Regions from separate parts of the Homo sapiens genome. Here all the other regions are linked to region 2. The links come from fine-mapping of genetic effects on gene expression. A gene starts in region 2. Each other region holds a variant in brackets. All regions are shown on one strand. Distances are from middle to middle.

Evidence for each region. PIP is the estimated chance that this variant, and not a neighbour inherited with it, causes the effect.
Region 1: its variant is the best candidate, but not a certain one, in a credible set for the expression of SH3PXD2B in hippocampus (GTEx, PIP 0.85).
Region 3: its variant is the best candidate, but not a certain one, in a credible set for the expression of SH3PXD2B in whole blood (INTERVAL, PIP 0.50).

Annotation. Positions count from the first base shown.
Region 1 is chr5:173,017,387-173,025,537 of GRCh38, reverse strand. It overlaps ATP6V0E1 (ATPase H+ transporting V0 subunit e1), which reads right to left. Exons shown (of 4, transcript NM_003945.4): 3 at 5,171-5,300. The coding sequence ends at 5,207. It overlaps SNORA74B (small nucleolar RNA, H/ACA box 74B), which reads right to left and starts at 4,812; the gene lies at 4,609-4,812. RefSeq lists a silencer at 5,018-5,312 and an enhancer at 7,544-8,087. The variant C/T (reference allele first, on the strand shown) is at 3,707.
Region 2 is chr5:172,451,257-172,459,435 of GRCh38, reverse strand. SH3PXD2B (SH3 and PX domains 2B) reads left to right here and starts at 4,911. Exons shown (of 13, transcript NM_001017995.3): 1 at 4,911-5,158. The coding sequence starts at 5,084. RefSeq lists an enhancer at 5,424-5,945.
Region 3 is chr5:172,408,730-172,416,908 of GRCh38, reverse strand. All of the region lies in intron 2 of SH3PXD2B (SH3 and PX domains 2B), which reads left to right. Among named protein-coding and RNA genes, the nearest start is that of SH3PXD2B, 42 kb to the left of the region's middle. RefSeq lists an enhancer at 3,707-4,208. The variant G/A (reference allele first, on the strand shown) is at 4,184.

The DNA.
Region 1 (8,151 bases), 570 kb before region 2:
GTCTCCAAAAAAAAAAAAAAAAAAAAAAAAAAAGTATTTTATATACATTGTAGAATAATAAAAGTTACTGTTATTAAGGAACAGTAATTTTCAGGCCAGGCATGGTGGCTCATACCTGTAATCCGAGCACTTTGGTAGGCCGAGACAGGCAGATCACTTGAGGTCAGGAGTTCGAGACCAGCCTGGCCAACATGGCGAAACCCTATCTCTACTAAAAACACAAAAATTAGCTGGGTGTGGTGGTGTGTGCCTATAGTCCCAGCTACTCAGGAGGTTTAGGCAGAATTACCTGAACCTGGGAGGTGGAGGTTTCAGTGAGCCAAGATACTGCCACTGCACTCCAGCCTTGGCAACAGAGCAGGACTCTGTCTTTAAAAAAAAAAAAAAAAAAAAAGAATGCCAGGCACAGTGGCTCACACCTGTAATCCTAGCACTTTGGGAGGCTGAGGTGGGTGGATCACGAGGTCAAGAGTTCGAGACCAGCCTGACCAACATGGTGAAACCCCGTCTCTACTAAAAACACAAAAATTAGCCAGGCGTGGTGGCGCACACCTGTAATCCCAGCTACTTGGGAGGCTGAGGCAGGAGAATCGCTTGAACCCAGGAGGCAGAGGTTGCAGTGAGCCCAGATCACGCCACCGCACTCCAGCCTGGCGTCAGAGCGAGATTCTGTCTCAAAAAAAAAAAAAAAGAAAAAAGAAAAAAATAAAATAAAATAAAAACTCTGTAATGTTATATTTGAAGAGAAAATACTAATGTAAACTTAAGATTATTTTTCATCTGAAAAATACATTACTTCCTGGTTCTTTCCATTGAAAAGGCTTAGAAGCAATTATGCTTAATTACCCCAGGCAGCAACAAACGCACCTAGCACTCCGATCGTGATTCTTAAATGCCATTTCCACTGAACAGAACCAGAGTCAAATGGGCCTGAGAACTGTTAGTAAACCAGACATCCTTTTAGTGGGGAATTCAGAAACCAATTCAAAGAACAGCTAAATCTAAGTCTCGGACAGAAAATATAGAAGAGGGGCCTGGACATTTTGATGTTGCCAGAAAGTAAGGAAACTACCAAAAACTAACACCAAAAGTACATAGAAGCCATCCTAAACAGGTTCTCACAGACAAAAAACAACAACAACAAAAAACAACAACAACAAAACACAACCATATAAAGGGTAAAAAATATAATTATTTAAAATTTAAAAAAAATCTCATTGAATACCCTGGAACTTGGCCACCAACATCTTACTATGAAAATTAAAAGAATTAAACCTGTATTCTGCTTTTCCCGTATTTTTGTATGATCTGTATTTCTTTCTTTTTTTTTTTTTTTTTTTGAGACGGAGTCTTGCTCTGTCGCCCAGGCTGGAATGCAGTGGCGCAATCTCCGCTCACTGCAAGCTCCACCTCCTGGGTTCATGCCATTCTCCTACCTCAGCTTCCCAAGTCGCTGGGACTACAGGCGCCCACCACCATGCCTGGCTAATTTTTTTTGTATTGTTAGCAGAGAAGGGGTTTCACCGTGTTAGCCATGATGGTCTCGATCTCCTGACCTCATGACCCACTCGCCTTGCCTCCCAAAGTGCTGGGATTAGAGGGGTGAGCCACCGTGCCCGGCCCCATGATCTATATTTCAAGTCTATTAGATCATCCTGTTGATGAGGAAAAGTTTTTTGTTTGTTTGTTTTTTGAGACAGAGTCTTGCTTTGTCACCCAGGCTGGAGTGCAGTGGTGCGATCTTGGCTCACTACAACTTCCACCTCCCAGGCTCAAGTTCTCCTCCCACCTCAACCTCCTGAATAGCTGGAACTACAGGTGTGCACCACCTTGCCTGGCTAATTTTTGTATTTTTTGTAGAGACAAGGTTTCACAATATTGCCCAAGCTGGTCTCGAACTCCTGGGCTCAAGTGATCTGCCTGCCTCAGCATCCCAAAGTAGTGGGATTACAGGCATGAGCCACTGTGCCTGGCAGGAAAGTTATCTTTATAGAAGCATTTCAGCTCATCAAATGCAGAGGTAATAATACAATTGAAAAATCAGACGGGAATGGTGGCTTACGCCTATAATCCCAGTATTTTGGGAGGCCTAGGCGGGTGGATCACCTGAGGTCAGGAGTTTGAGACCAGCCTGGCCAACATGGTGAAAACCCATCTCTACTAAAAGTAACCAAAAATTGGCTGGGTGTGGTAGCACACACCTGTAGTCCCAGCTACTTGGGAGCCTGAGGCAGAAGAATCACTTGAATTCAGGAGGCAGAGGTTGCAGTGAGTTGAGATCGTGCCACTGCACTCTAGACTGGGTGATAGAGCAAGACTCTGTCTCAAAATGAATAAATAAATAAATAAATAAAAATAGAACTGGAAAAATCATCATTTGCGGCCAGGCACGGTGGCTGATGGCCATAATCACAACACTCTGGAAGGCCAAAGTGGGAGGATCACTTGAGCCCAGGAGTTTGAGACCAACTTAGGCAAGATGGTGAGACCTCATTTCCACAAAACAAAACAAAAGTCACACGTGGTGCTGCGTGCCTGCAGCTGTTAGGGAGGCTAAGACAGGTCGATCTCGGGAGCCCAGGAATTCAAGGCAGCAGTGAGCTATGATCACACCACTGCACTCCAGCCTGGGCCATAGAAAGAGACCCTCTCTCTCTATAAAAAATAAATAAAATTTTAAAAATTAGCCAAAACATGGACCACATAGTAAGACCTTGTCTCTATTCAAAATTTAAAAATTAGCCAGGCACGGTGGTGTGTGCCTGTAGTCCCAGCTACTCAGGAGGCTGAGGCAGGAGGATCACTTGAGCCAGGAGTGTGAGGCTGCAGTAAGCCATGATGGTGCCACTGCATTCCAGCTGGGTGACAGAGACTCTCTTTCAAAAACAAAAAAGTTAGGGTATGGTGGCTCATGACTGTAATTCCAGCTACTTGGGAGGCTGGGGCAGGAGGATTGCTTAATCCCAGGAGGTCAAGACTGCAGTTAGCCGTGATTGTGCAACTGTACTCCAGCCTAGGTGACAAGAATGAGATTCTGTCTCAATTAAAAACAAAAACAAAAACAAAAAACAGCAGCAGCAGCAAATCACCATTTGCCATTTCAACTAAAATGATTAATTCAGGCTATGATCATCAATGGATAAAATCACTTGATAAAAAGGACTTTACAAATGAAGGAACCAGGCTGTCATTACCTGAACCCAGTGATCACATCAGCCTTACTAAACATAGGAGAGCCAGAGCCAGACATCCTGTTTCTCCAGATGGGAGGCAATACACAGTTTACAGTAACACCTAAAGAGCCAAAAAACTTGAACCTAAATCTAGTCAAGGCATTTAAAGCTAACTTCCATTTAACAAAATAATGAAAACAACGAACAGATTAAATAAGAGGTTTCCTGACTCTCGGCCAGTGAATAAATCTTTCCACTATACCACTACTAACCTCTCTGACCCTCAGGACAAATAGAAGCTGCAACCTTAAGACTGATTTTCCTTTTTCTGAGACGGAGTCTTGCTCTGTCGCCCAGGCTGGAGTGCAGTGGCGCGATCTCGCCTCACTGCAAGCTCTGCCTCCTGGGTTCAAGCCATTCTCCTGCCTCAGCCTCCCGAGTAGCTGGGACTACATGCGCCCACCACTGTGCCCAGCTAATTTTTTGTATTTTTAGTAGAGATGGGTTTCACCGTGGTCTCGATCTCGTGACCT[C/T]GTGATCCACCTGCCTCAGCCTCCCAAAGTGCTGGGATTACAGGCGTGAGCCACCGCGCACGACCAAAGACTGATTTTCAAAAGGCACTGATATGGCTTGGATTATATGTCCCCTCCAAATCTCATGTTGAAATGTGATCCCCAATGATGGAGGTGGGGCCTGGTGGGAGGTGTTTGGGTCATGGGGGTGGATTCCTCATGAATGGCTTGGTACCCTCCTGATATGGTTTGGCTGTGTCCCCACCCAAATCTCATCTTGAATTGTAGCTTCCATAATTTCCACGTGTTGTGGGAGGGACCTGGTGGGAGATAACTGAATCATGGGGGCAGTTCCCCCATACTGTTCTCATGGTAGTGAATAAGTCTCACGAGATCTGATGGTTTTATAAGGGGAGACCCCTTTTGCTTGGTTCTGATTCTCTCTTGCTGCTACCATGTAAGAACTGCCTTTCATCCTCCGCCATTATTGTGAGGCCTCCCCAGCCACGAGGAACTGTGAGTCCATTAAACCTCTCTTTCTTTATAAATTACCCAGTCTTGGGTATGTCTTTATCAGCAGCGTGAAAATGGGCTAATATACCTCCCCATAGTAACGAGTGAAGTAGTTGTTAGTGCACACAAGAGCTGCTTGTTTAAAGGAGCCTGGCACCTCCTTCTCTCTCTCTTGCTCCCTCTCTGGCCATATGACACGGCTGCCCCCCTTTTGCTTTCTGCCATAAGTAAAAACCTCCTGAGGCCTCACCAGAAGCCAAACAGATACGGGTGTCATGTTTATACAGCCTGCAGAACTGCGAGCCAAATATAAATTACCCAGTCTCATGTATTCCTTTATAGCAACACAAAACAAACGGACGCAGGCACCTTTCTCCATCCAAAGCATTCAAAAACCTTAATTTTGTTTTCTCTGTCTGCTCCCAGACTAGAACTAAGCAGCCAAAGTGAATGCTTAGCACACTCTCGGGGAAGCACAGCTCTGTCTTGCACCAGTGCCAGACGCCACCAGAACAGTGGCGCAGGCAACCGGATGAAGACAAGACATTCCTCTCCCAGCAGTGTAACACCATCACAGGAACGGTTCTGTCCGGATGGCTGACTACTGCTGGAAAGAAACCTGCTCAATTTTAAATCTGCCAGCCACTTTTTAAAGTTGCTGGATCTCACAATGCCAAGTATAAACAGTTACTTTTTTGATCTGCGTCTGAAAGAGTGCATGCAAGCTTAATTTTGTAAATTAAACTGTATTTATTTAAAAAGGCAGGGTGATAGCAGAATCTAAAAAGAATCTTAATGAGATTTAGGTAAGCTAAGGCTTAAGTTCCAATTTTATTTCTGCTCTTCAGATCGTGTTTGCATTCAGCAGCTTGCCCTTGCCACGTGTTAAAATGGCCATAAAATGTGAGAAAAAGTCAAGGCAAACTCTGACTGCCTGACCATACTGATAAGAAAGGTCACAAGCATAGTCACCTCAAAGACTGAGCACTGTAGAGCATGTCTTCTTCCTCAAGGCCAATGATACTTCAGATACCAGATGGTTTCATTTTTCAATTGCGGTCCAAAGAGAGGGTTGAGTTGGGCCAGAATTGCAATCAGCCAACTAAAAGAAGGATGGGAGAGAAACAACGAAGCGGTGAAATCATGTTGGAACATGACCATTTTCAATTAGCATGGAAAAAGTACACTAGCAAAACTTAAATCTACTGCATTCACACCAAACTTTCCATATACATTGTGTTAACAGCAGCATGTCTGATAACAAAATGTTTCCCAGGACGTAGCCTGCCTTCATCTTGAGACATATCACAAAGCAGTGAGGCTTTGTCACAGTAAGTCTCTGACTTTTCTCTCATTACCTGATTATCTTTCCAAGTATCCAAGATTTCCTGAATTCATGATATCTTCGCTTCAAAGCGTTTTCACTTAATCTCAATTTATCATCATCACAACTTCCAACCTCAGGGAAAATGTGTCTTATTTTATCCATTCTCCAAATGTTAAGACCCACAACCTACATGACACACCCATTTTTACTGGTACAGGCAAGGTTTGATTGTAGCTTATCATCTTCCTATTAGACTATAACATGTAAGGTCCCCTTTTCTAATCCCCATCACCACCAAAATATGTAACACATCCTACTGTGGAACTTAACAGAATGGGCATTTACCTTCTCCCCAGTTTACTTCAGAATCTAAATAATGAGGTATTCCTCTGTATTACAGACTAAACTATAAAGGAAGTAAAATGGTGTCACATCTTACTTCAGGGTTTTTTTTTTTTTGAGATGGAGTCTCGCTCTTTCGCCCAGTCCAGACTGCAGTGGTGCAATCTCGGCTTGCTGCAAGCTCCGCCTCCCGAGTTCACCCATTCTCCTGCCTCAGCCTCCCGAGTAGCTGGGACTACAGGCGCCCGCCACCACGCCCAGCTCATTTTTTGTATTTTTAGTAGAGATGGGTTTTCACCGTGTTAGCCAGGATGGTCTCCATCTCCTGACCTCGTGATGTGCCCGCCTCGGCCTCCCAAAGTGCTGGGATTACAGACGTGAGCCACCTCGCCCAGCCGACTTCAGGGTTAAAAGTGAAAAACAGGTTGGGTGCGGTGGCTCATGCCTATAATCCCGCACTTTGGGAGGATAAGGATCACTCGAAGCCAGGAGTTGATGACCAGTCTGGGCAACACAGTGAGAACCCGTCTCTATAAAAAAATTTTAAAAATTCACTGTGTTTGCTGACTTGCACTTGTAGCCACAGCTACCCAGGAGGCTGAGGTGGGAGCATCCCTTGAGCCTGGGAGTTCAAGGCTGCAGTGCTATAGTTACATCACTGCACTCCAGCCTGGGCAACAGAGTGAGACCCTGTCTCTAAAAAAAGAAAAGAAAAATAGCATAGATTTATCTTTAAAATTTTCTTATATAGCTCACAAAGTTCTGTATAAAGGGTCTTATATATGATACGGTAATTCATATGCCAAATAAAGTTTTGAGAATCACTTAGCTCAGACAAAAGCAAACAACAAAAAAATATGCAAATGTCTGAGTATTCAAACCATTCTTCACTTACTAAAGAAATATTTAATGAGCACCTACTAAGTTCTAGGCCTCAGAAATACAATGGCGAAAAATGAAATGTCACTATCCTCACAGAGCTTACATAATAGAATGTCAGGTGATAACTGTTATGAAGGAAGTCAAGCAAGGAGAAGGAATAGAGAGTGGCTTGACGGGGCATTATTTCGACAGGGTGGTCAGGGAAGGAGGAAGACAGACAGGGGAATGAAGCAGAATACACACTGCCTTTAGTTCCTACTCAAAATCCAGCTGACCATTGAACATGGGTTTGAACCATGCAGGTCGACTTGGATGCCTGGGCCTGCTCATATGCCTGCCTGTCCTGCCTCCACCTCCCTTTCCACCTCCTCCACCTCTTCTGCCTCTACCACACCTGAGACAGCAGGACCAAGCCCTCTTCTTCCTCCTCCTCAGCCTACTCAGTGTGAAGACAACAAGGATGAAGACCTTTATGCTCATCCACTTCCACTTAATATAATAGTAAACATATTTTCTCTTCCTTATGATTTTCTTAACATTTTCTTTTCTCTACCTTCCTTTATTATAGGAACACGGGATATAATACGTATACAAATTATGTGTTAATTGACTGTTTATGTTATTGGTAAAGCTCCTGATCAACAGTAGGCTATTAGTAATTAAATCTGGGGGGATTCAAAAGTTATAAATGGATTTTCAACTGTGCAGGGGATCGGAACCTCTAACTTCCACGTTATTCAAAGGTCAACTGTGTATGAATTTGAATTTCTTTCATTGGTGGGCAGTGGTGTGGGGAGGAGGGCAGGGTTAAGGTAAACAAGCCCAACCAACCTCCAACTACCAATCTGGGAGAGTGAAATTTGGTAACATACTGCTATCCTTTCTGCATGGTACATTGGGATCTAGGGAATCCCTTTCTTTTCTTTTCTTTTTTTTTTTTTTTTTTTTGAGAAGGAGTCTCGTTCTGTTGTCCAGGCTGGAGTGCAGTGGCACGATCTCAGCTCACCACAACCTCCACTTCCTGGGTTCAAGCAATTCTCCTGCTTCAGCCTCCTGAGTAGCTGGAATTACAGGCACGCGCCACCATCCCCAGCTAATTTTTGTATTTTTAGTAGAGAAGAGGTTTCACTATGTTGGCCAGGCTGGTGTCGAACTCCTGACCTTGTGATCCGCCCACCTTGGCCTCCCAAAGTGCTGGGATTACAGGCGTGAGCCACTGCAGCCGGCCAGGAATCGCTTTTTTTTTTTTTTTTTTAGACGAAGTCTCACTCTCGTCACCCAGGCTGGAGTGCGATGGCACGATCTCGGCTCACTGCAACCTCTGCCTCCCGGGTTCAAGCGATTCTCCCGCCTCAGCCTCCCGAGTAGTTGGGATTACAGGCGCCTGCCACCACACTCGGCT
Region 2 (8,179 bases):
AACAGTGTGAAACAGGGAAATGGCGTGAAGAGGTCTGGGGAATGGGCAGGGGCAACAGCAAGCCTGGCCCTGGAGGTTCAATTAATGTCCCTGAGGACTTAGGTTAGAGTTCATGAGATAGAGATGAGTTCATTCAGCCCACAGCATCTCTTTGGGGCCTCTCTTTGCTAATTCTGTGCCAAAGGTGGGAAACTTGAGACAAATAAGGCCATTCCGGCTCCTTGGGAGCTTGGAGTCTGGCAAAGGAGTTGGATATTAAGAAAACAATCACAGCCCAGAATGACAGCTGGGACAAGGCACAGTGGCAGCTGGGTGGGGGGGAGACAATTACCCATCTGGGAGTCAGGGCTTCCTACAGGAAGTGATATTAGTGACATTCAGTATGGACTTTGAAGGCTGAATGAGAGTTCACCAGCAGACAAGGTGGGGAAATGAGCAGCTTATGCCAAGGCATGTCGGTGATGTTACCGGAAAAGGTCTCGATTAAAACCTCAAGAGAGGGTTCTTGGACCTCATGCAAGAAATAATTTGGGGCAAGTCCATAGAATAAAGTGAAAGCAAGTTGATTAAGATAGTAAAGGAATAAAGAATGGCTACCCCATAGGCAGAGCCCTGGCATGGGATGCTCGAGTCTAAGTATATTTATGGTTATTTCTTGATCACGTGCTAAACAAGGGGTGGATTATTCACGAGTTTTCTAAGAAAGGGGCAGGGATTTCTGGAACGAAGGGTCCCTCCTCTTTTTAGACTATATAGAGTCTAAAAGGAATCCTTGTCCAAACCTAAGGGAGAACTCGAATGGAAGAGAAATCCCACTTGGAATCCTATTTGAATTCCAAGTGGGATTTCTCTTCCATTCGAGTTCTCCCTTAGGTTTGGGCTCCCTGATGAACTCGAATTTGCAGAAGTGTTTTGTGTTTGTGACAAGGAACTAGTCCAGTTCCAGTGAATTGTAGTGACCATCTGGGTTGAGATTTTTATCAGCAGATAATCTGCAGTTCTCCCAAGCAGAGCCTAAATGGATCTTTCCAGTCTGAACAGCCAGCCTAAACTGCATCACCAGCCCACAATTCAGTTCTCCAAAAACTATGGTGGACACTCAGAAAAGCCCAAGTTGTCTAGGAGGTAAATGGGTGATATAGAAAGGTAAGAAGAAAAAAACCAATAACACAATTTTAAAATGCACAAAGGACTTGAATAGACACTTCTCCAAAGAAGATAAACAAATGGCCAACAAGCACATGAAAAGATGCTGAACATCACTCATCATTAGAGGAATGCAAATCGAAACCACAATGAGATTCCATTTCACATCCATTAGAATGGTTATTATCAAAAACAAATGAACGAATAAAGAAATAAAAACAGGCCAGACACAGTGGCTCATGCCTGTAATCCCAGCACTTTGGGAGGCCAATGCAGGAAGATCACTTGAGGCCAGAAGTCCAAAACCAGACTGGTCAACATAGTGAGATTCTGTCTCTACAAAAGGAAAATTTTAAAAATAGCCAGATGTGCTGGTGGGTGCCTATAGTCCCAGCTACCAGGGAGGCGGAGGCAGAGGATCCCTTGAGCCCAGGAGATCAAGGCTGCAGTAAGCCATGATCAAAATCACTGCACTCCAGCCTGGGTGACAGGATGAGACCCTGTCTCTTAAAAAACAAAACAAGGCCGGGGGCGGTGGCTCATGCCTGTAATCCCAGCACTTTGGGAGGTTGAGGGGGGTGGATCACCTGAGGTCAGGAGTTTGAGACCAGCCTGACCAATAGGGTGAAACCCCATCTCTACTAAAAATACAAAAATTAGCCAGGCATGGCGGGCGCCTATAGTCCCAGCTACTCGGGAGGCTGAGACAGGAGAACTGCTTGAACCCAGGAGGCAGGGGTTACAGTGAGCTGAGATTGCGTCACTGCACTCCAGCCTGGGAGACAGAGCAAGACTCTTTCTCAAACAAAACAAAACAAAACAAAACAAACAAACAAAACAGATAATAACAAGTGTTGGCAAGGATGTAGAGAAATTGGAACCTTTGTGCATTGCTGAGGGAATGCGAAATGCCACAGCCCCTGTGGAAGACAGTTTAGGGGCTCCTCAAAAAAAAATTAAACATAGAAGTATCACATGATCCAGCAATTCCATTTCTTGGTATATGCACAAAAGAATTGAAACCAGGGACTTGAACAGATATTTTTATACCAATGTTCACAGCAGCATTATTCAGAATAGCCAAAAGATGAAAACAACCCAAGTGACTGTTGACAGATGAATGGATAAAGAAAAAGTGCTATATACATATAATGGAATATTATTCAGCCATAAAAAGGAAATTCTGACACATGCTACAACATGGATGAGCTTTGAGGACATTATGCCGAGTGAAATAAGCCAGACACAAAAAGACAAACATTGTGTGTTTCCACTCATATGAAGTACCTAGCATAGTCAAACTCATAGAGATGGAAAGTAGAACAATGGTTGCCAAGGCCTGGAGGAGGTTGGGGGGCAGTGGGGGGGGACTCAGTGTTTAATAGGGACAGAGCTCCAGTTTAGGAAGATGAGAAAGTTCTGGAGAGGGATGGTGGTGACAGTTGCACAACAATGTGAGTGTACTTAATGCCACTCAACTGTATGCTTTAAACATGGTTGAAATGTTAAATTTTATGTTATGTATTTTTTACTACAATAAAAAAGTAAAACAAAGGAAAGATACGTAAAGATGCAGGGATAGCATCTTCTGCTACTGGTGGTTGTGGGGGGACCTTTGTCTTCCCCAGACAGAGGAGACGGACACAGCCAGCAGGACCCACCTCTGCCACCCATGGTGTGGCTGGGGGCAGGTCTCTCTGCCTCTCCGGAAAAACCCAGGAAGCTGGCTGATTCAGAGAGGGCCTCTAGCTTCTGCCTTCTTAGGAAGGCTTGGCTCCTAATAAGGCAATGCACGATGTGGCAGGGACGGAAAAGCAGACCTTCACTTCTTTGGACATTTCCAATGAGGCCTCAGGACCCTCTGGCTTGGGACTGTACTTCAGAAGAATGTGCCTTACAGGAATTACATGAGTGAGGGTCCTGGCACCGAACAGATGCCACCCTCAAGCTGGGTCCATGAAGACAGTTTAGTAAAGGGTCAATGTATACGGGTGTGGGCGGGGCTAAGGAAGCACCGAGGATGGCGTAGTACCCAGGGCTTGCAACAGCAAGACTGTCACTGTCCTGAGCAGAAAAGTGGCTTCAGGAACCCTGAGAGAGACCATGTGAGAAAGGGCACCTTTGGTAAAAACAATCGGGGAGGAGGGGCTTAGGGATTAAATACCCAGACCTCCCTCTCTCCTCTTGCCCTCAATCTCCTGCCAGGCCCTTCCACTGGCCAAGCCAAACAGGAAGACCAGGACAGAGAGCTGTCAGTGAAATCCACACAGGCCAGCCTCTGGGGCTGGAGCAGGATGGTAAAGTCTGGCAAGGAAGTCAGAGGAGCAAATGGAGGGGCGGATCCAAAGTGAATCAGCCCAAATCATCCACGTGGCCTGGCCGAGGCTGAGAGCCGTCCTACCCTGGATAAGCCCACCCTTTTCCAAAGGCTGATCCTGGACCGGGGTGGGAAGTAGCTCTGTCGTGGCATGGAGAAGAGTCGTACGGTTTGTTGAAAAGAGCCCCCACTTACTGGCTGTGAAAACACTGGCCAGGAGCCTAAACCTCCCATCCATGCATTATATATTCATTTATCCATTCATTCAGCCAACATCTCCTGAAAGTGACTCAGTGCCCAGCCAGTGCTAGGAGGCACTAGATGAAGAAACGAGGAGCTGCCCCAGCCACGGCAGCTTCAACGTGTGAGATCCACCTAGAGCCAGGCAGTGACGGGCTCCATCCACCGGCTCCCTGACTCTGGACCTTCACTGATGTAATTCCTGTAAGGCACATTCTTCTGAAGTACAGTTCCCAAGTCAGAGGGTCCTCAGGCCTCATTGGAAATGTCCAAATGTCTGGAGGCCGTCCTCTGTAAAAACACCTTTTCCTCCTAGAGTCTGCCTGAGGATGCAAAGACAGCATTTGTGAAAAGCAGGGGCCACGGGGCCCAGCGAGCAGTTAAGTGCTCCGCAACTGGAAATCGATGGCCTTGCTAACAAGCACCCAGCTGCCCCTCACACATAGTCACCACCCTTTTATCCCCTTTTGTTGCTTCCATGGCAATTACATTGCACGTATGCGCATTTGTTGCAGTTTTTCTCTCCCTCACTCCCCATGTCCCAGACTGAGGCTGGGGGAACCTGGTCACGGGTCTCTTGCTCCTCCTGAATCACCAGGGCTTGGGGTGGCTTTAGGAACGCCAGCACTCATACCATGGACTGCACTGCGGAATGGCTTCACATGCACTTAATCCCGGGCGCAGCACCGGCAGGCAGGCGGTACTACTGACACGTGCTACAACATGGATGAGCCTTGAGGACATTATGCCGAGTGAAATAAGCCAGACACAAAAAGACAAACATGGTGCTTGTACTACTAGGCTCATATTATAGACGAAGAGACCCAACCCAGAGAGGTTAAGCAACTTGCCGAGGGCACAGAGTGGAAAAGCGGCAAAGCCGGGATTCGAACCCGGGTGTCCGGCTCTCCAAACTGGCGGTGGATGGCGGCTGCCGGAGCGAGAGTGCTGGAATGAATCGATACGTCAATCAGTGAACGGGCGACGGGGTCAGTCCAGTCCCCTCCCCCGGCGCGGCGGCTCAGCACCGGGACAAAGGCCGGGCGGGGGCCGGACGTGGCCGGCGGGGTTCGCGCGCGGTGGGCGGGGGTCGGGGCCGGGCCCTTTAAGGGGGGCGGGCCGGCGGCGCGGGGGGCGGTGCGGGGGGCGGTGCGGGGGGCGGTGCGGGGGGCGGGCCGGGGGCGGGCGGCGGCGGCTGGGCCCGGCTGGAGTGCGCGCCGAGCGAAGGGCGGCGGCGGTGGCGGCGGCGGCTCGTGCTCGGCCCCGGCTGCGATTGCGCTCAGCTCCAGGTTCCCTGCCCGCGGCGGCGCGCCCCCAGCGCTCCCTGCACCCCGCGCCACCCGCACCCGCGCTCGGCCCGCTGCGGGCGGAGGAGCGGCCATGCCGCCGCGGCGCAGCATCGTGGAGGTGAAGGTGCTAGACGTGCAGAAGCGGCGGGTGCCCAACAAGCATTATGTGAGTGCGGCGCGGCCCCCACGCCCCCTTGAGCCCGCGCCCCGTCGGGGGCGACCGAGGGCCCCCGGCTTGGAAAACTTCTGCCTCCAGCGCTTCCCGTCCCCTCCTCCCCTGCTCTCCCCTCGGCTCTGCGGCGGCGCTGCCCGGGTCCCTCCCGACTCCTCCTCCCTCCCTCCCCTCCCCTCCCCGCTTTTGCCTCGTTCTCCCCCTCCATCCCTTCCTCCCGCCTCGCCCCCCTACTCGCCTCCCTGCGGCTCCTCTACCCCTTTCTGTCTTCTCCGTGTCCCCCCAACTCCCGTCCTGCTCATCTGTGGAAAAGTCTGGCTCCAGCCGGTGAGGGGTCTGAGACAGAAAGCGGGAGAGACAGAAGTGCCTGTTCTCAGGCCGCCCGCCTTGCCCCTCCTTGTCCAGAGGCGCGCAGACCCGCAGTCCCCAGCCACAGGTAGCCCCTCTAGGGTTCGCCGAATTTGACTCCGTTCTTTGGCAAGAGCCGGCCTGGGCGATGGAGGAGATCTCTGGGAATGGATCATTTGAGTGGCTACGCCTTTAAAGGGTTAAAAACATCCCCTGCCCCCTCTCTCCAGTAACTTCTGTTTTAAAATGTACGAAAGTTTTCTCCTGGCATCTCCCTCTGGAACATGGGAATCTTGTTTGGAGCTGGCAAGGACTTGAGAAAATGGGACAGTAGCGTCGTTTTGCAGATAGGAAGGCTGAGGCTCAGAGGTTGCAGGTCCTGGAACATAGAGCTGCATTCGGGCTTCCCTCCCTCCAGCAGGGGTGCCTGGGGCTGACGGTGACCTGCAGGTGGAAAGTGGCTTCCGCAGCAACCTAGGGGACACGTCTGCAGATTCAGGAGGCCCTGGGACCACCTCGCAGGTTCTAGGTGGAGATAAAGGGGATGTGGGGTGATGGGCCCACATGAGGCCTTGGGGAGGGCCTCATTACAGCAGGGAAGGGGGCTATAGTGTCTCTGGCGGTGAGAAGTGGGCAGTGGCGGAGCCTGGCTGCAGAGAAGTTAACCAGGAAGGGAAAAAGAGTAAGAGGGAGGGAAAAAATCCTAACAAAGAAGTATAGAACAATGAATAGAAAAGGGCGTTGGCTGGCTAAATTAAGCTCCTTGGCCTCCCTGGAAGTCGTCTTCAGATCTTTTTTTTTTAAGAACTAATTCTTACAAAGTAGATCTGCATGCCTTCCGTGAATAGCCTGTGAAATTCTGAAAGGAGATAGCCGGGAACCCACTCCGCGCTCTCCACAAGAAAGGGTGTGCTGTGTGAGTCTGTATTGTTATTGGCTGGGCAGCCAGTTATTCAGCCCTTAGCCAGGCGGTGGGAAGCTATTTCCTGGACCTGTGGCATCTTTATATAGAGTGAAGTTTCCCTTGATTCCAGAGCTGAGCTAAATTGTCTTTTTTTTTTCCTTCCTTTTTTTATTTTTTGTTAACTGTTTTCAAATGCTGCCAAATCTTAGTTTCTTGTTTGAGCCTGTTAGCGTGTAAGTGAGTTTGCCTCTTTGGCATGAAGACAGTTTTCACCAACATGGCAACTGGAGGAAGTCTGGAATTCTCCATGCCACCTCCCACCAGGTCTGTGAGCTGGCAAAAACGAGAATAGATACTGCCACCGAGGCCCGGCCATCATCGTCCACGCGCCCTCTTCTGGCCTCTCCTATCACGCCCATATCAGGCAGAGGGCCTTAAGCCCATTTGACAGATGAGGAAACCAGGGCTCAGCAAAGTGAGGTCCCACGCCTAAGGTCACAGTCAAGAGCCAAGCAGGGATGTAGATCCAGGCCCGCTGGACCCCAAAAGGACCACACCACTTCCCACATCCGGTACCCCTATAGTTTCTCTGAGCAAAGTCCTCTGAAAAACTGGGAAATCTCTCTTATCATTAGTGAAAACCTGGAAGCTTTTCATTCTCTGCTGTGTCAGCTCCATCCTTGCCAGTTTTTTGAAGGTTTTGCGCTTTGAGAACCGTCTTTTGAAGCTTTCAGCCACTTTTTGGGGGCCCCCTGAGACAAGTTTCTATGTTAAAACATAGATTGGGATTCAGATCTTGGCCTCCCAGGTTGTAGCTGTGTCACCTCAGCCTCAGTTTTTTCATCTGTGTAATGGGGATGGTGGTGTCCATTTCCTAGAGGTAGCAGCCGCATGACAGGCTGCCTTAGGGCATTCCTAAATGCCCTAAAGGCATAGCTCCCTGCCTGCCTGTCCTGAGGTATCTTGTCACTGATTGGGAACATGCCAAAGTCACATGGTAGGGGGATTCATCAAGAACTTGTTTTTCTGCATGTGGCTTTAGTCACTCATGTGATTCAAGAGGCCCTCTCCCTTCTAGCCCAGGCTTCTGGGTTCATCAGATGAGGAGGGGCAATGGGCTGAACTGAAGCCTGAGTCATCCACAGGAACAGAGAACATTTACTGCCTTGATGGCAGGGGGGCCAAACCCAATGGAAACAGATCCCTGTGGTGGGCGACCGCTGCTGTTCCCAAGCTCCACCCCAACCCCTCACACAATCTGGAAAGAGCGGGCATGAAGGCAGCTATTGGCAGGCCTGGACTTTGACTCCCATTTGGTATCCCTTTTTCTGAAGCCACCCTGGAGAGACAGCATCAGCTGGGGAGTTGAACTTTTCTGCTGTGTGACCTCGGACTGGTTGGTTTGCCTCTCTGAGCTCTAGCTTCTGTGTAAATACTGCTACATCCCTCAAGGGCAGAGTTTCTCAAACTCAACACTTTTGACATTTGGGGCTGGATCATTCTTTGTTTCAGGGCTGTCCTGTGGATTGCAGGATGTTTAGCAGCTTCCCTGGCTTCTACCCAGCTAGTTATCCCCCTTCCCAATTGTGACACCCAAAAGGCCTCCAGGCATTGATTGCTGCATGTCCTCTAGGGGGCAGCACCACACACATTCCCACCCCAGCCACTGCGCCATAGACTATAAAGTCAGTTTTTGAGAGTCCTCTTCACTACGCCCCCTAATTTCCCACTACCCCTCTCCCCATTTGCAGCCATCTCGGCCA
Region 3 (8,179 bases), 43 kb after region 2:
AACAAGATCCCATCTCTACAAAAAATTTAGAAATTAGCCAGGTGTGACGGTGCGCACCTGTAGCCCAGGCTACTTGGGAGGCTGAGGTGGGAGGATCCCTTGAGCCTAGCAGGTCGAGGCTGCAGTGAGCTGAGATTGTGCCACTGCACTCTAGCCTAGGCAACAGAGCAAGACCCTATATCAAAAAAAAAAAAAAAAAAAAAAAAAAAAAAGAGAGAGAGAGAGAGAGACTCACAGTCTCTATGAAAAGGTCCTTTTTAAAAAAAAAAAAAAAAAAAGTAGAGGCCGGGCGCAGTGGCTCACGCCTGTAATCCCAGCACTTTGGGAGGCCGAGGTGGGCGGATCACAAGGTCAGGAGTTCGATACCAGCCTGGCCAAGATAGTGAAACCCCGTCTCTACTAAAAATACAAAAACTAGCTGGGCGTGGTTGTGGGCACCTGTAATCCCAGCTACTCAGGAGGCTGAGGCAGGAGAATCATTTGAACCCGGGAGGCAGAGGTTACAGTAAGCCAAGATCGTGCACTGCACTCCAGCTTAGGCAACAAGAGCGAAACTCCGTCTCAAAAAAAAAAAAAAGTAGAGACAGGGTCTCACTTTGTCACTCAGGCTGGAGTGCAGTGGCGCCATCACAGCTCACTTGCAGCCCCAAACTCCTAGGTTCAAGTGATCCTCCCACCTTAGCCTCCCGAGTAGCTGAGACTACAGGTGTGTGCCACCACGCCTGACTAATTTTTTAAATTTTTGTAGAGACGGAGTCTTGCTTTGTTGCCCCGACTGGTCTCAAACTCCTGGACTCAAGTCACCCACCCACCTCGGCCTCCCAAAGTGCTGGGATTACAGGCCTGAGCCACCGCGCCCGGCTGGAAGTTCCCCTTTATGAAGATTCACCTTCCAACTTGGTTTCCTGACTTGCTTACCTTAGAAGGGCCTGATAGTGATGCCTGATGCTCTTACTTGACATCTGACCACACGTCTCATTCACCTGAGGGTGCAGGAAATGGGATAGAGCCCTGGGCTTGAAATAAGAATACCTGGTGTCGGGTCCTTCCCTCTGTCTTACCAGCTGTGCGGCCTTGGGATGGTCACCCAGCCTCTCTGATTCTCCCTTTCTGCCCTGGCTTGGGACTACTCTGGGGAGTCCATCAGTGTGGCAAAGGAAATTGGCATCCAGGCAGAGCACTGGGGATGACTGGAGTGCCCAGAGAGCTGAGGGTAGTGCCTAGCAGAAATGTGGCTGGGTTGAGCCACATAGTAACAATATCGGCAGTCACTAACTGGAATGTGCCAGATGCCCATCTTATATGCCATCTCATTCTGTCCTCACAGGCATGAGGTCAGTATTGTATCCATTTCACAGATGGGGAAACTGAAGCTCAGAAAGACAGAGTCACATGCCCAGAAAGCAGCATGGCTGGGATTCAAGCCCAGGTGTGGCTGGATCTGAAACTTGCACTCCTAACCTCCCTGCCTCCTTGGGCCCCGGGATTGCCTTTCAATCTGCCTATTGAAAGATAGATTTACCCACATAGAGTCCTGCCTATGGCTGCCCCTTTTTAAGGCCCATTTGGCTCCTCCCTCTAAGATACAGGCAGAGTCTATCCACAGAGGGCAGTTCTGACCAAAACATGAGCCCCTCTACACTGTACCGTGCAACCTTTGTCTTCTGAGTTCCCACTGGTTCATTGTGTCCCCCAGGCCAAGGGTCATGGTCATCACTGGAGCCAGGGCTTCCCTCACAGAAGGCGCAGTTAAACATTTGCTAACCTAGACCTCGAGCTGCCACAAGGGACCCAGATGGATCTCTGCTTTCCATAAGCTTCCAGTGTAGTGGGAATAGGCACATGTTCTTTCAGATAGAGAGAAATCCAGGTGTTCACAGAGGGACCTCCCTCCTAGCCAGGGAGCTCAGACAGGGCTCACTTGCTGGAGGAGGTGACATCTGAGCAGGGTCTTGACAATGAATAAGGAGTGGCCCCTCCACCGAATGGGGGAGGGCATTGCATGCAGAGGACACCTCATGTGCAAAGGTGCAGAGGTGCAATGGAGCAGGAGTCTTAGCTGGGCATCTTCCAGAATTCCAACATTGGCAGGGGGGCACAGAACCAGCTGAGTCACTCTGCCCGTGAAGGAGCCCTCGGGAGAAATGCCAGCCTCATCTGTAAGAAGGAACACTCCCTACGGGGAAGTTCATGCTGCAGAGATCCAGAGAAGCTTTTCTGGCTCCTCTCCTGCTCCGCACGCTGTGCCAGAGCGTTGCTGCTAGGCTCAGGGGCTTACGGCTCGAGCAGTTCTTGGACGCCTCAAATCACAGGTGGAGGCTGCATCTCCATCTATGCCTTTGTCTCTCCAGAGACTGTCCCAAGTCATGCAGCAAAAACCGCTTGTTTCCAGTTTCCATTGAGCTAGGACTGACCCATCCCCTTCTTTTTTTTTTTTTTTTTTTTTTTTTTTAAGATGGAGTCTCGCTCTGGAGTGCAGTGGCGCGATCTCGGCTCACGGCCACCTCCGCTTCCCGGGTTCAAACGATTCCCCCACCTCAGCCTCCGGAGTAGCTGGGATTACAGGCACGCGCTACCATGCCCGGCTAATTTTTGTATTTTTAGTAGAGATGGGGTTTTGCCGTGTTGGTCAGGCCAGTATTGAACTCCTGGCCTCAAGCAATCCACCCGCCTCAGCCTCCCAAAGTGCTGGGATTACAGGCGTGAGCCACTGCGCCCGGCCTTGACCTGTCTCCTTCTAAGACCCTGGTCCTTCCACCTCGGCCCTCTTGGGAGTTTAACAGCCCCAAGTGTACTTTTTAAGACTATCTGCCCATAAGCCCCCATGCTCCACTGCAGAGGCCAAAGGGAAGGGAGGGTTTTCTTCCAGCTTTTCTGAGGACAGGTCTAGGGGATGGCAGAACTGAAGAGTTTTCACTCCCTAGGCAGGCATTGCCTGGCCGGGAAGCCTTCCCAGCAAGATCCCAGCCAACATCTGGCCCAAGACTCCACCAACCATATTTATCCAAATACTGCCTTTACTCCATCCTCAGACACACTTTTTCTCCCAGACATTATCTTCTGGAATTGGAGTATGCCTCCAACGTGTTGTGCATACTTAAATGGAATAGTTTTCCCTTCCCACTAAAAGCTATTACCATATGGAAGGTGTGTCACTGGGAAAATACCGTAGTTGCCTTTTTCCACACAGTTAGCAATTCTTTATTTCTAAAATAGAAAGAGGCATGATTATCTTGGGCAGTTGCAGCTAAACTCAGGTCCAGGCCCTGTTGCTGCCACCTGGTATGTAATTTTTCCTTTCCCAGAGAGTGGCTGACCAAACCAGTTAACCACTTTTTCTCATTTGTTTTTTCATTCATTCATTCATTCATTTACTCATTTGTTCTTTGCACAAATATCTAACAGGTGCTTACCGTGTACCAGTGAGGAGGTAGTGGGGCAGAAGAGAGGGCCAACAGTAGTAAGGGGGTTGAACTGAGAAAATACAGGCCTGGACTTAGGGGGAGCAGTAAGTATGGAGAGAAGCGGACAGACCGGAGGTGGTGGCAGCCTCCGTGCAGCACGTCCATCAGGACACCAGACACATTGATATTTAGACCAGCTCGTGGAGGGGCCAGAATCCTCAAAGACAACAAACCACAGATGGTAGACTAGGCCCAGGGACACCGTTGTGTTCAGGGCCCTGAAAGCCCTGCCCCAGGACCTTGTGGCTTTCTGCCAGCCTGCAGCTGCGCATGATGGCCCCAGGCCTTTCTCCACTTCCTGCTCCGGCTCCGCTGGGACTTGGGGGTTTTGTGATATTGAGGGGGTAAACCCCTCCCAAGTCCAGCCTCAATGGCTGCTGCTAACGCAAACCACGTGTGGTGGCCAGCTTCCATGGCGTGTTCTTTGGACAGCGTGTCTCGCATTCCCTCTACCGCAAGCTGATGTCTTGAAAACTGCTGATGGAGTGTTCTCTCTTTCTTCTTGGAAGCCTGTGATGTGGCAACTTGATGTGACTCCTTCTCCCTTCCTACTCCCCAAATGACTCATCTTCCTCTTCAGTTTCCAGTCCTCCTCACCCTGAGCGCCACTTCTTTTGTTATCTGGGGGGAGCGCGGGTAGTGGGTTTTCTCATTACCAAGGATGACATGGGTTAGGCTTTGAGGAGCATGCCTCTGCTCCTGCTGCTGCAGACAGCCTG[G/A]GCCTGGTCCCTTGGAGAACCTACTTCAAGGCCTTTGGATGCCTAGTGTTACAGTTCTCTGCATAGATGCAATTGGTGGCCGTAAACCTGGACACACCAAGACCAGCTCGGCAAGGAAAGCTTGCAGGGCTCTAATCCCCCAGCATCTTATCCTGAGTCCTAGTCTTTGCAACTAGCAAACTCACAGATGGCCGTTGACATTGGACACAGTGATGAAGAAAACGAAATAAAATTGGATGTGGTTTAAATAGGAGGATATTGTGATAGTCCAGCCCTGCACTGTCCGGGATGGCAGCTGCTCGTCACATGAGGGTATTTAAATGTAAATTCAAGTCAATTAAAGAAAATTTTTAAATTGAGCTCCTGAGTTGCAGGAGCAGCATTTCACCTGCTCAATAGCTACCAGGAGGCTAGTGGCCACTGGATTGGACAGCAAGATGTAGAACACCTCCATGATGGCAGAAAGTGCCAGCAGACAGCCCTGCTACAGCCACGGGGCCACCCGGGCAGTCCTGAGGGGTTTTTTGCCAACCTTAAAACACAGCCTCACAATCAAATATTATTCAGCCTTAAAAAAGAAGGAAATTCTGCCACATGCTATAAAATGGATGGAGCTTGAGGACCTTATGCTAAGTGAAATATGCCAGTCCCAAAAGGGCAAGTACTGTGTCATCCACTTATTGGAGGTAGCTACAGCAGTCAGATTCATAGAGGCAGAAAGCAGAGTAGTGGTTGCCAGGGCCCAGGGGGAGGGAGAGGGGGGAGTCACAGTTTCAGTTTTGGATGATGAAGAGGTTCCAGAGATGGATGGTGGTGATGTTTACACAACATTGTGAATGTGCTGAATGCCACTGAACTGTACACCCAAGTGTGGTTGAAATGGTAAATCTTCTCTTGTGTATATTTAACACGATTAAAAAAAAAAAACCACACAGCCTTACAGACTACTAAAAGTTATCCCCAAATAACTTTCAAAATAACATATTCAATATGGGCAGAGTGTAAGGAGCGGGGATTTCTTGCTGAGCATCTGGTGTGCTCCCCAGAGTTTCCACATAGCACTCATTTACCCAGCCCCGCCGCGGAGCAGGCTGCGTCCCTCATCCTGCAGACGGCCAAACAGGCTCAGGGATGAAGTGTCTGGCCAAAGACACACAGCTGGCATGAGGAAGCATCAGGATTGAACCCCAGGGCTGTTGGGTCCCCAGCAGTCATGTCTGTGGTTAGACTATGCAGTATTTAAACCCAGATCTGCCACCTCCAACAAATAAAACAAAGGGAGGCCTTTCAGCTCCTTGGGCCATGCTGATCTGGGTAAAATCAAGTCAGGACAAAGGGCAAGAGAGCAGCTTCTTAAGACCAGGCAGTAGAGACCCCTCTGAGGACTGAAAAACACAGCAGTGGCAGGGACTCATTGGCTGACATGTACATTCAGGCAGGGACTCCAAAGGAACCCGGAGATTGGAAATAGTCATGTTAGGGTGGACAGATTACTGGTGCATTCTTTAAAAAAAAAAAAGTTCCCTTTAATGGTGTTTCATTGTCTTAACAAATAAAATTGAGAAGGGAAAAAGTAGATAGTGTTAGGCAAAAACCTATAAATCTCTAACATACTCCACAGCTGAGACTGATTAATGGCTCTGCTTTCGAAAAGAAAGCATGCTGTTCACATGTGCACAGAATATTAAACTTACCTCATCTCAGGCTGACTTTTGTGTTCACGTGACACTCTGAAGCTGCCTCAAAGAGTGGTCTTAGGCAAAAAGAATGGAATTTAGACAAAGATGCATGGACTGGCTGGACACACCACTTAGCTGTGTGACTTCAGGCAAGTTCACTGCCCTCTCTGCTTCTCAGTTACCTCATCTGTGACAAGGGGAATGTAACATTTATGTCACAGAGTTACTGTCAAGGTCACATGAAATCGTATATGAGAGGACATGTTCACTGTGAACTGTTATATACGTGTTAGTTGTGATTACTAATTATTATTTAGTATTAGTAATGTGAATATTATTCCTCAGAGTTACTTAGCAAACATCTCCTGAAGTTGCCTCCCAAAGCGTTTGCTCAGTTGCGTTCATTGGTTCAGCCAATTTTTTTTTAATCAGTAAACTTTAGTTTTTAGAGAAGTTTTAGGTTCTCAGAAAAATTGACTGGAAAGTACAGAGCATAGCCCCTTGTCCTCGCCACTCACAACCTCTCTTCATCGACATCAAGTTCAGCCCGTTTTTATTGAGCATCTACTATGTGCTGGCATTGAAGAGCTCTTGGATTCACAAAAAGAAGGCTGCCTTTTCCAGCAAGTCCCCACTGTGGCCTCACCTGTCTCTGAATGACAGTGGACCAAGCATTTCCACCTCACCAGGCAACAGAACAGGGGACAATGACTCAAAACCACAAATAAAACCACATGTTTAAAATACTGGCAAGGATGTAGAGAAAAGGGAACTCTTACACACAGTTGGTGGGAACGTAAACTAGTATAGCCACCATGGGAAACAATGTAGAGGTTCCTCAAAACACTGCAAAGAGAACTTCCATATGATTCAGCAATCCCACCACTAGGCATTTATCCAAAGGAAAGGAAATCAGTATATCTAAGAGATAATACATCCCATGTTGATTGCAGCTCTAGTCACAGCAGCCAAGGTGTGGAATCAGCCTAAGTACCCATCAGCAGATGAATGGATAAAGAAATTGTGGTATGGGCCGGGCACAGTGGCTCATGCCTGTAATCCCAGCACTTTGGGAGGCCGGGGCAGGTGGATCACCTGAGGTCAGGAGTTCAAGACTAGCCTGACCAAGATGGTGAAACCCCGTCTGTACTAAAAATACAAAAATTAGCCAGGTGTGGTGACCCATGCCTGTAATCTCAGCTACCGGGGAGGCTGAGGCAGGAGAATCGCTTGAACCCAGGAGGCGGAGGCTGCAGTGAGCCAAGATCGTGCCATTGCACTCCAGCCTGGGCAACAAGAGCGAAATTCTGTCTCAAAATAAAGAAAAGAAAAGAAAAAGAAAAAGAAAATGTGGTATGCATACACAATTGAATACTATTCAGCCATCAAAAATAAGGAAATCCTGTCATTTGCAGCAACATAGATGCCACTGGAGGACATTATGTTAAGTGAAATAAGCCAGGAACATAAAGTTCTCACTTACATGTGGAAGCTAAAAAAGTTGATCTCATAAAGTGAAAAGTAGCACAGAGGATAACTAGAGGCTGGGGAGGGTAGGGGGAAGTGGGGAGATAGGGAGAGATTTGTAAAAGGAAACAAAATCACAGCTAAATAGGAGGAATAAGTTCTAGTGTTTTGAGTGTTTTTGGTTTTGTTTTTGTTTTGAGACAGAGTTTTGCTCTTGTTGTCCAGGCTGTAGTGCAATGGCGCGGTCTCGGCTCGCTGCAACCTCCACCTCCCAGGTTCAAGCAATTCTCCTGCCTCAGTCTCCCTAGTAGCTGGGATTACAGGTGCCCGCCACCACGCCCAGCTAATTTTTTTGTATTTTTAGTGGAGAGGGGGTTTCACTGTTAGTCAGGCTGGTCTCGATCTCCTGACCTCAGGCCATCCACCCACCTCGGCCTCTCAGAGTGCTGGGGTTACAGGTGTGAGCCACCGCGCCTGGCCAGTTCTAGTGTTTTATAGTACTGTGGGATGACTATAGTTAACAATAGCGTATTATATAGTTTCAGATAGCTGGAAAGAAAACATTGAATATTTCTAACACAAATAAATGATACATGTTTGAGATGATGAATGTGTAAATATGCTGATCTGATCACTACATATTATGTGAATCAACATTACTAATGTACCCCATGAATATATACAATTATTATGTGTCAATTAAAAATTAAATTTTAGAAATTTAAAAATTAAAATAAACTAGAAAGTGAAAACCCAGGCCAGGCGTGGTGGCTCATGTCTGTAATCCCAGCAGTTTGAGAGGCCGAGGCAGGCAGATCACCTGAGGTTAGGAGTTCGAGACCAGCCTGGC